Homo sapiens: one gene and its partners. The protein of the gene in region 1 purifies or fractionates together with the protein of each later gene. This does not show direct contact. Each region holds a gene or a part of one and is shown in the gene's direction. Other genes may lie near its edges.

Evidence for each region.
Region 2: the proteins of KYAT1 (region 1) and YEATS2 purify together in Homo sapiens (affinity purification with mass spectrometry; 2 studies listed by BioGRID and IntAct, with this or other methods). This does not show direct contact.
Region 3: the proteins of KYAT1 (region 1) and ZNF318 purify together in Homo sapiens (affinity purification with mass spectrometry; 2 studies listed by BioGRID and IntAct, with this or other methods). This does not show direct contact.

The regions. Positions count from the first base shown.
Region 1 is NC_000009.12:128,840,430-128,844,081, reverse strand, and holds part of KYAT1 (kynurenine--oxoglutarate transaminase 1), read left to right. Parts: intron 1-921; exon of another isoform or gene 922-1,280; coding exon 1,281-1,428; intron 1,429-3,652. Other genes in the region: KYAT1-SPOUT1 (uncharacterized protein LOC127739546), read left to right, coding at 1,281-1,428. UniProt on the Homo sapiens protein: Catalyzes the irreversible transamination of the L-tryptophan metabolite L-kynurenine to form kynurenic acid (KA), an intermediate in the tryptophan catabolic pathway which is also a broad spectrum antagonist of the three ionotropic excitatory amino acid receptors among others.
Region 2 is NC_000003.12:183,704,185-183,707,836, forward strand, and holds part of YEATS2 (YEATS domain-containing protein 2), read left to right. Parts: intron 1-3,652. UniProt on the Homo sapiens protein: Chromatin reader component of the ATAC complex, a complex with histone acetyltransferase activity on histones H3 and H4. YEATS2 specifically recognizes and binds histone H3 crotonylated at 'Lys-27' (H3K27cr).
Region 3 is NC_000006.12:43,352,531-43,356,182, reverse strand, and holds part of ZNF318 (zinc finger protein 318), read left to right. Parts: intron 1-37; coding exon 38-1,519; intron 1,520-3,652.

The DNA.
Region 1 (3,652 bases):
ATGATGTGTGCCTGGGCTGGTGGGGCCCTGTTCTGCCCAGAGTAGGGTCAAGAGCATCAAACTTTGCTTGAGATGGAAGTAGAAAGGCTGGCTGGCTGTGCCTTGTACTAGCTGGGAGGCTTTAGGCAAGTCACTCCACTCCTTATCCCCACAGTGGTCCAGGAACAAGATGTGCCTCACAGGCCATTGTGAAGGCTATATGAGCAGAGCGTTTAACTGTGGTGTTGACGAATCCAAGGAGGAGTCATGCAATCTGTACAGGGGGTCTCAACTAGTATTTGGAAAGAATAGAGTAGGATAGGACAGGACAGAAAATACTGCAGTAGATTGCACCAAGAAGGATGAAGCTTCCATTCCATGTTTGTGCTCCACAGGGTTGATGATGCAAAGGTGATTTCTTGGCCGGTAGTGGTGGCTCACGCCTGTACTGCTAGCACTTTGAGAGGCCAAGGGGGGCGGTGGATCACCTGAGGTCAGGAGTTCGAGACCAGCCTGGCCAACATAGCAAAACCCCATCTGTACTAAAAATACAAAAATTAGCTGGGCGTGGTGGCGGGTGCCTGTAATCCCAGCTACTCAGGAGGCTGAGGCATGAGAATCGCTTGACCTCGGGAGGCGGAGGTTGCAGTGAGTTGAGATTGCACCACTGCACTCCAGCCTAGGGGATAGAGCGAAACTCTGTCAAAAAAAAAAAAAAAAGATGATTTCTTCCTATGGGTCATGGTGGAAGAACTTGGAAAGCCCCTGGGCTGATTCCTGCGATTAACAATGTGCCTGACTGACCTAATCTCAATGTAGGGGACCAGCTGTGACACTTAGGCAGATCTTCAGGCCAGGACAGTTGCTGATTGTCTAGTTTTTGTTTTTCTTGTGTGTGTATGTGTGTGTTTTTTGTTTTTTGTTTTTGTTTTTTTAAGACAGAATCTCACTCTTGTTATCCAGGCTGCAGTGCAATGGTGCGATCTCGGCTCACTTCAACCTCCGGTTCCCGGGTTCAAGTGATTCTTCTGCCTCAGCCTTCCAAGTAGCTGGGATTACAGGCCCCTGCCACCATGCCTGACTAACTTTTGTATTTTTAGTGAAGACAGAGTTTCACCATGTTGGCCAGGCTGGTCTCAAACTCCTGACCTCAGGTGATCCGCCCACCTCGGCCTCCCAAAGTGCTGGGATTACAGGCGTGAGCCACCACACCTGGCCGGTTGTCCAGTTTTTCTAAACAGGCCGAAGTCCAGGTCACCATGGAGGGCTGGGCTGGTGCTGATTCTCCATTTGTTACCCAGGGTGGAGTTTGTGAAACTGGCCAGTGAGCATGACGTCGTGAACTTGGGCCAGGGCTTCCCGGATTTCCCACCACCAGACTTTGCCGTGGAAGCCTTTCAGCACGCTGTCAGTGGAGACTTCATGCTTAACCAGTACACCAAGACATTTGTGAGTCTCCCCATCTCTCGTGGAGGCACTGGGGGAGGAAGGGGACAGGGCTTTCTGGACTTCAAGCCCACACAGCTGTCAGGCTTCAGGGGACAGAGCCAGGGGATTCTGTATGACCATAGTTCAGTGTTTACTGAGCGTATCCTCTGTCCCAGAGCCTTCGCCTCGTGGTCTAGTGGGGATGGCAGACAAGAAGCCAGTAACGACAGGCAGTTGATACATGATGTGATGGAGGAGGATGGGATATCGTGCGAGTAAGAAAGAGGGAATGAAACCTGGGGAGGGGGCTGGAGAGATGCACGAAGACTTCCTGGAGGAGGTGACACTTAAACCAAGTCCTGAAAGATGAGCTACTGGTTGGATTACACAATAAATCCAAACGTTTTCCGGAAAGGACCACATAGTAAATATGTGACACTGCTTGGATTAGAACAGTGGTTCTTTTTTTCTTTTTCTTTTTTGAGACAAGGTCTCACTCTGTTATCCAGGCTGGAGTGCAATGGTGCGATCATGGTCCACTGCAGCCTTGACCCTGCCAGTCTCAAGTGGTCCTCCCACCTCAGCCTCTGGAGTAACTGGGACTACAGGTGTGCATCACCATGCCCAGCTAATTTTATTTATATATTTATTTATTTATTTTTGAGTCAGGGTCTCACTCCTGTCACCTAGGCTAGAGTGTAGTGACATGATCACGGCTCACTGCAGCCTGTACCTCATGGGGCTCACATGATATGCCATTTCCTGGGGCTCATGTGATCCTCCCACCTCAGCCTCTAGAGTTGCTGGGACAACAGGGGCATGCCACCTCACCCAGCTAATTTAGAGACAGGGTTTCACCATGTTGCTCAGACTGGTCTGAAACTCCTGGGCTCAAGTGATCCTGCCACCTCGGCCTCCAAAAGTGCTGGGATTACAGGCGTGAGCCACTGAACCCTCATTCTTTTTTTTTTTTTTTTTTTGAGATGGAGTCTCCCTCTGTCGCCAGGCTGGAGTGCAGGGGCGCAATCTCGGCTCACTGCAACCTCCCCCTCCCAGGTTCAAGAGATTCTCCTGCCTCAGCCTCCCGAGTAGCTGGGACTATAGGGGTGCGCCCCCACGCCCAGCTAATTTTTGTTTTGTTTTTTTTTTAAGACAGTCTCGCACTGTCGCCCCGGCTGGAGTCTGGAGTGCAGCGGCACGATCTCGGCTCACTGCAACCTCCGCCTCCGCCTCCGCCTCCGCCTCCTGGGTTCAAGCCATTCTCCTGCCTCAGCCTCTTGAGTAGTTGGGATTACAGGCGCCCGCCACCATGCCCAGCTAATTTTTGTATTTTTAGTAGAGACGGGGTTTCACCATGTTGGCCAGGCTGGTCTCAAACTCCCGACCTCGTGATTCGCCTGCCTCGGCCTCCCAAAGTGCTGGGATTACAGGCGTGAGCCACCGCACCTGGCCATTTTTTGTATTTTTAGTGGATACTGGGTTTCACCATGTTAGTCCGGTTGGTCTCGATCTCTTGACCTCGTGATCCACCCACCTCAGCCTCCCAGAGTGCTGGGATTACAGGCGTGAGCCACCGCACCCGACCGCACTCGTTCTTTTTAATGGCTGCATACTGTTCTGTTGCCTGGATGTGCCATAATTTATTTAAGCAGTTCTGCACTGATGGACTGCTTCTGCTATCTCAATATCATAAGCAATGCCACAGCAAATATCCCTGTGTGGACATCTTTGTATACATATGTATTTCTCTAAGATAAATTCCTGGAGGTAAAACTAGCAAAAGAAAGACTATAAATATTTATAAATACAATAGGTGGATATTGTTAAGAAACAGTGTGTGCCTATAATCCCAGCTACTTGGGAGTCTGAGGCAGGAAGATTGTTTGAGCCCAGGAGTTTGAGGCCAGTGCAACATAGTGAGATCCTGTCTGAAAAATAAACAAACAACTAAGTAAATAATTGCCCTCCAGTAAGGTTTACTCATTTACATCCCTGCCAATAGGCTGGTCTCAGAGCTGGTTGGAAAGTTCCTTCTTTGATCCAAAAAAAAAAAAAATCATTTGGGTATGTATCTTTTTCTTTTCTTTCTTTCTTTCTTTTTTTTTTCTTTTAACTAGAGACAAAAGCTGGGTATGGTGGCTCACGCCTATAATCCCAGCATTCTGGGAGGCTAAGGCTGGCAGATCACCTGAGGTCAGGAGTTCAAGACCAGCCTGCCCAACATGGTGAGATCCCATCTCTAATA
Region 2 (3,652 bases), on another chromosome or scaffold:
GTAGACTTGTGTAGTACAAATCCCCTTCGTTCTAGATCTCCCCACTTTGGTTTTAGGATTTAGCCTTTGTTCGTTCTGCTTGTTTCTTTTTCTGTTGCTGGCAATAAAACTTTCCAGTTATGATGCATTATGCTTTTAATACCCTGCTGGATTGGATTTGTATGTGTATTTGCAGTGAAAGCTTGTTTGCCATTTTCCTCTGATGGTGACTTTTGACCACATTTCCATAGGTTTGGAGATACTGTGTTCTCGTTAGTTTTTAAATAGTCTGTTACTTTAGTTTTAATTTCTTCTTTGAGTCATGAGTTATTAGAAGAGTGTCTTATTTTCCATATCATGGTGAGCTAATATTAATTTTTATTAAGATCAGAATGTGGCTGTAATATTTCTACATTTTGCAGTAATTTGAGACTTTCTTCATATCTTACTGTATGATTTACATTTTATGAACTTTTTTTTTTTTGAGACAGAGTCTCACTCTGTTGCCCAGGCTGGAGTGCAGTGGCGTGATTTCGGCTCACTGCAACCTCCACTTCCTGGGTTCAGCAGTTCTCCTGCCTCAGCCTCCCAAGTAGCTGGGATTACAGGTATCCACAACTATGCCCAGCTAATTTTTGTATTTTTAGTAGAGACGGGGTTTTACCACATTGGCCAGGCTAGTTTCAAACTCCTGTCCTCAAGTGATCCACCCACCTTGGACTCCCAAAATGCTGGGATTACAGGCATGAGCCACTGCATCCGACCTTAATGAACTTTTATAGATATTTTTAAAAGATTTTTTTCTGTTGGGTTCAGAGTTGTGTGTATTTGTTAATTCTGGCTTGTTAATTACCAGATATATATCTATATCATCTTTTTTGTTTGTTGTGTTTGTTTTGTTTGAGACGGGGTCTGGCTCTGTCACCCAGGCTGGAGGTGCAACGGCGCGATCTCAGCTTAACTGCAGGCTCCATCTCCTGGGCTCAAGCAATCCTCCTACCTCAGCTGCCCAAGTAGCTGGGAGTACAGGTGCTTGCCACTACTCCTAACTAATTTTTGTATTGTTTGTAGAGACAGGGTTTCACTGTGTTGCCCAGGGTGGTCTTGAACTCCTGAGCTCAAGCGAGTCACCTGCCTCAACTTCCCAAACTGCTGGGATTACAAGCGTGAGCCACCACGCCCGGCCTATCATCTGTATTTTTATAAATTGTCTTAATCTTTTAAATTTTATATAGAGATGTGTGATTTCTTAAACTTTCCTTTTTCTGTTTGTTGTATGTATTTTGATACTATATTGTTGGATGTATAGTTTAAGATGTATTTTTGTGATTGTGCCTTTAATAACATCATCTTTATCATGTTATTTTTTTTGCCTTGAATTCTATTATTAATATTGCCTTGCTTACTGTCTTTTTGTTTGCATGTGTCTGTGTATAATAACTTTGTACATTCTTTTAAACATTTAGCTAAAGAGCCTTTAAAGATGTAGCAATATCAACAAATAGATTAATGATGAAAACTAATGTAAGGTAGTAGTTATGTTCCCTGTGGTCATTTATATTTTGGCAGATATTTTAGTTAATCCTTCATTTATGGCTGGGCGCAGTGGCTCACGCCTCTAATCCCAGCACTTTGGGAGGCCGGGGCAGGCAGATCACGAGTTGAGGAGATCGAGACCATCCTGGCTAACATGGTGGAACTCCATCTTTAGTAAAAATGCAAAAAAATTAGCCAGGCATGGTGGCGGGCGCCTGTAGTCCCAGCTACTCGGGAGGCTGAGGCAGGAGAATGGCCTGACCCGGGAGGCGGAGCTTGTAGTGAGCCAAGATCGCACCACTGCACTCCATCCTGGGTGACAGAGCAAGACTGTTTCAAAAAAAAAAAAAAAATCCTTCATTTATTTTTCCAGATAGTAATATTGAGCACTTCCAGGAACTTTGGAGGGAGAAGGTAGGGAGAGCTGTGTTGGATGGGGCACGGTCAAGGAAGGCCCCTGATAAGGGGGAGATTTCAGCTGGAATCTGATTAAGCTAACCTAAGAAAAGAGCATTCCAGATAGAAGGAGCCATGATTCCAAAAGCTCAAAGGAAAATTGGGAGTATATTTGAGGGATAGAAAACCAACCTGTCTGGATCTTAAAGATTAAGGATGGAGAGGGAGACAGGGCGCAGTTCACATCTCTTAGGTCATGTTAAGGAATGGAAATTTGTTCTAAATGTTATGAAAAGCTATTTGAAGGATTCAAGCAGGGGATGACATGATCAGAAAAATATTCTTATTGTCCTTTTCTAAAGTGAGGTATAGTTTACAGACAGTGAAATACAGATTTTGCGTGTACAGTTGGGTGTTTTTGCAATTGGATATACATACCCATCTAACCTACACTCTTATTAAGATTAGTGGAGCACTGTGGGAGGCCAAGACGGGCAGATCACCTGAGATCGGGAGTTCGAGACCAGCATGACCAACATGGAGAAACCCCGTCTCTACTAAAAATACAAAATTAGCCCGGCGCGGTGGCGCATACTTGTAATCCCAGCTACCCAGGAGGCTGAGGCAGGAGAATCGCTTGAACCCGGGAGGCGGAGGTTGCCGCGAGCTGAGATTGTGCCATTGCACTCCAGCCTGGACAACAAGAGCGAAACTCTGTCTCAAAAAAAAAAAAGTTAGGTGGAGCATTGGTAATCCAAAAATCTGAATCTTAAATGCTCCAAAATCTGAAACTTCTTAAGCACCAACATGATGCCACAGTGGAAAATTTCACACCTGACCTTGTGACTGGTCAGTTAAAACATAGTCAAAACTTTGTGTTATGTTTTGAATTATTTAAAATGTTGTATAAAATTACCTTCAGGCTCTGTGTGTAAGATATTTATGAAGCGTAAATGAATTTCATGTTTAGATTTGGGTTCCTTCCCAAAGATATCTTACTATGTATATGCAAATATTCCAAAATCCAAAACAGTATGAAATCTGAAACAGTTCTGGTCCCAGGCATCTTGGGTAAGGAATACTCAACCTGAATAAAATATTTCTAAGAAAAAAGTCTTCATTCCTCTTCCCAGTCAGTCCCTAACACCAGCACCTCCAACTATGATTCTCATTTCTTTCACTATAGATTAATTTGTCTCTTCTAGAACTTAAGTGGGATAATTTAGCTTGTACTCTTGTGTTTGCCTTCTTTGGCTTGCCATAATGATTTTGAGGTTCATTTCTGTTGTTGCCTGCATCAAGAGTTCATTGAGTATACCACGATTTGTTCGTCCATTCCTCTGGTTTGGACTTTTGAGACATTTTTGAAATGTCATTGGCTAATGGAAAATGGATTGTAGAGTCTTATTCAGATATTTAATAAAGGAACACTGGTTGTCTTGTTTACAAAAGAGAATGTATTTTCTTTTAAGACTGTAGAAAGGACAGGGCCAGGAACTATGAAATCATTATCAGCATCTTAGGAATGCCTGTCTGTATGGAAGCAGATAGAAAATGATTGTACTACTCCCCTTCCCCACCTATTTTTTTTTTTTTTTTTTTTTTTGAGACGAAGTCTCACTCTGTCACCCAGGCTGGAGTGCAGTGGCGCAATCTCGGATCACTGCAACCTCTGCCTCCCGGGTTCAAGCAATTCTCCTGCCCTGAGTAGCTGGGATAACAGTGCATGCCACCATGCCCA
Region 3 (3,652 bases), on another chromosome or scaffold:
CTGCATAAGACTAAATCAGTTGTGTTTGTCTTTGCAGCTTGAGAGTTTTTCCAGCAGTACCAGCTCCAGCCAGGATCACCCTCTCTACTCTGGGCACCCATCCCTTCCACTAAGTGGTGCTATTGCTGCTTTTGCCTCAGAGATTGAAAACAAGGGGACTATGGTAGAGACTGCCTTGAAGGAACCTCAGGGCAACCTCTACCAATGGGGTCCCCTTCCTGGGATTCCCAAAGACAACAGTCCTCTCAGAGAAAAATTTGGAAGTTTTCTATGCCACAAGGATAATTTGGATTTGAAGGCTGAGGGACCTGAGCGACACACAGACTTCCTGCTGCCCCATGAGAGAGCTAGCCAGGATGGCAGTGGTTTTTCCCGCATTCTGAGCATGTTGGCTGATTCTACCAGTACACAGGAAAAAAGGCGACGTAGCTTTCCCGACATTGAAGATGAGGAGAAATTTCTCTATGGGGATGAAGAAGAGGATTTAAAGGCAGAATCCGTACCAAAGCCCCTTGGGAGCTCTGAGAGTGAAGTTATGAGGCAGAAGGCAAGCTCCCTGCCGTCTTCAGCTCCAGCTGTAAAGCTAGAATCACTAGAAGAGACCAATCCAGAATATGCGAAGATCCATGACTTGCTCAAGACAATAGGGCTGGATATTGGAGTAGCAGAGATTAGTCAATTGGCTGCACGCACCCAGGAACGACTTCATGGCAAGAAGCCATCATTACGCTCCTCAGCTGACCGCCGTTCCTCAGTTGACCGATACTTTTCAGCTGACCACTGTTCCTCAGTTGACCACCGCTTCTCAGCTGACCGCTGTTCCTCAGTTGACCACTGCTTCTCAGCTGATCGACGTTCCTCAGATCCCCACAGACTAGAGAGCAGGGAGGCACATCATAGCAATACCCACTCTCCAGAGGTGTCCCATCCACACCCACCTTCTCCTGTGGATCCTTACCTGCTCACAAAAAACAGCCCTCCATTCCTAAAGTCTGACCATCCAGTGGGTCATATTTCAGGACCAGAGGTGGTTGGTAGTGGGTTTCAGTCATCTGTTGCAGTCAGGTGCATGTTGCCATCAGCCCCATCTGCCCCAATTAGACTTCCACACACTGCTGCTTTATCTCAGTTTCACATGCCAAGGGCCTCTCAGTTTGCTGCAGCTCGGATACCTCCGAACTACCAGGGACCTGCCATTCCCCCTGCCTCTTTTGATGCCTATAGGCACTACATGGCATATGCAGCCTCCAGATGGCCCATGTATCCCACCTCTCAACCGTCAAACCACCCTGTACCTGAACCACACAGGATAATGCCAATAACCAAACAAGCTACTCGTAGCCGTCCCAATCTTCGTGTGATCCCCACTGTGACTCCTGATAAGCCTAAGCAGAAAGAGTCTCTGCGAGGCTCAATTCCTGCGGCCCAAGTGCCTGTCCAGGTGTCCATTCCATCACTCATAAGATATAATCCAGAGAAGATCTCTGATGAGAAGAACCGTGCTTCCCAGAAGCAAAAGGTGAATATTAGCTTTGGGTATCCTGTGCCTGAGTTTTCTGTTTTGCCATAAATTTGTATATGTTTTTTAGAAGGGGCTGAAAATTTGTAAGGCTCTTTCACTTGAAGTCGTCTGGAGGCTGCTGTCATCATCCTAAGAAGTGTATATTGTTCCTCTGTTTTTCACACATGTTTTATCATTAGGACTAAACAAAAGTCTGGCCTTGGGTCCTATTGTGATTGTCAGCCTTTTTTAAGTTTAATTCTATCCAAGTTAATGGTCTTCAAACACTGTAGATAGGAACTGGGAGCCTTGAAGTCTTCAATATGATTTCGTAGTGGAGTAGGGAACCAAAATTGGGTGTGGTGAAGGAGAATCAGTAAACCTGTTTGATCCCAGTGAATTCTGTATTCTTACCCTGTAATGATTATGAGTTAAAGTTAATAACTAGTTGTTGCTTGATAATTGAAGCAAACCAAGAAATAAACTTTGCTTGTTCTGGTTTATCTTAGAGTCCAGGAGTAACAGTAACATTTTTGACATGTTATTTATTTAAAAAATTACGTGTGTGTGTGTGTGTATGTGTGTGTATGTATACGTATATTTTATATAGAGATGGAGTCTTCTCACTGTTGCCCAGGCTGATCTTGAACTCTTGGGCTCAAGTGATCCTCCCCTGCCAGCCTCTCCCAGAGTGCTGGGATCACAGGCATGAGCCACTGTGCCTGGCCTCTAAAGTCATTTTTTATATTATCCAGGTTCATTGGGTCCCCAGCCTGTGGGAAGAAAGCAGTGACTGGGGTAAAGATATAATAATTCTAATAATTCTGATAATTTAGAGCAGTAGGTGAAAACTACATCAAGATAGGGAATACATAATAGAAGAATTTTGAGTGGAAGAGTTAATACATACTATTAATTGTAAAGGTGCTTATACCTAGCAACTCACTTTGTTTAGAAACATAAAAATGTAATGTGTCTAATTTGGTTTGCTCATAAAAGTTAAGACCTGGCTGGGCGTGGTGGCTCATGCCTGTAATCCCAGCACTTTGGGAGGCTGAGGCGGGTGGATCACGAGGTCAGAAGATCAAGACCATCCTGGCTAACACGGTGAAACCCTGTCTCTACTAAAAATACAAAAAATTAGCCGGGTGTGGTGGCACGCGCCTGTAGTCCCAGCTACTCAGGAGGCTGTGGCAGGAGAATTGCTTGAACCTAGGAGATGGAGGTTGCAGTGAGCTGAGATCATGCCACTGCACACCAGCCTGGGCAACAGAGCAAGATTCCATCTCAAAAAAAAAAAAAAAAGTTCTGAAGAAAAAAATTAGAGGGCCAGTCTCATTTTTTTCCGGTTAAAAAGTTTTAGCCAATTATTGGGAAGACAAAAAACACTTCTCTTAAGTTTCTATTGGACTTAAATACCCTGAACTTCAATCTTTAGTTTTACTGAAGTCTTTTGGGAAAGGGAATAGGTTCAATGTAGACAAAACTTTAGAGACAGTGTTTGGAGGTCATACACTTCCTCTTTATTTTCCTTTTATAAATCTAGTCCTTAAGTCAGGGCGCTGATAATACATAGGTCTATTATAGACACATACAGGCCTATTATATGCTGGTATAGTATAGACAAGCCATATTTGCTTTTTTTCATTAGGTAGTAGTATAGTTGAAAGATCATGAGCTTTAGGGCAGATATACCTGGATTGTAAATCTACTCTTAATGTGTGACTTTGAGTATTCTACTTAATCTTGTACAACTTCAGTTTTCTGACTATAAAATAGTGAAAATGTGAGGATTAAACAACATGCTACTCTGGGCATACTGCCTATGGGTTATCCCTGGTTTGCAAGGAGCAGTGAAAATAAACAACATGAAATATGTCCCTTACCTATAACACATATGGTTCCTTTATCTATGGTTCCCTTTGGAACTTAGAACCACTATCTAATAGTTGCTATCAGTGCCCTAGATCCTTCCTGCAAAAAACAAACAAACAACCTTTCTGGACAGTATAGTTTTTGAAAAGATGGACAGTTCTATTCTGGAACTTAGAACGAAATATTACTTTGACAGTAAGGTCAGAGCCTGTGTGCAGGCATTTGGATCCTTACATTCAGATAATGTCTAGGAAGAAGGCTTCTGGAAGAGAGAAA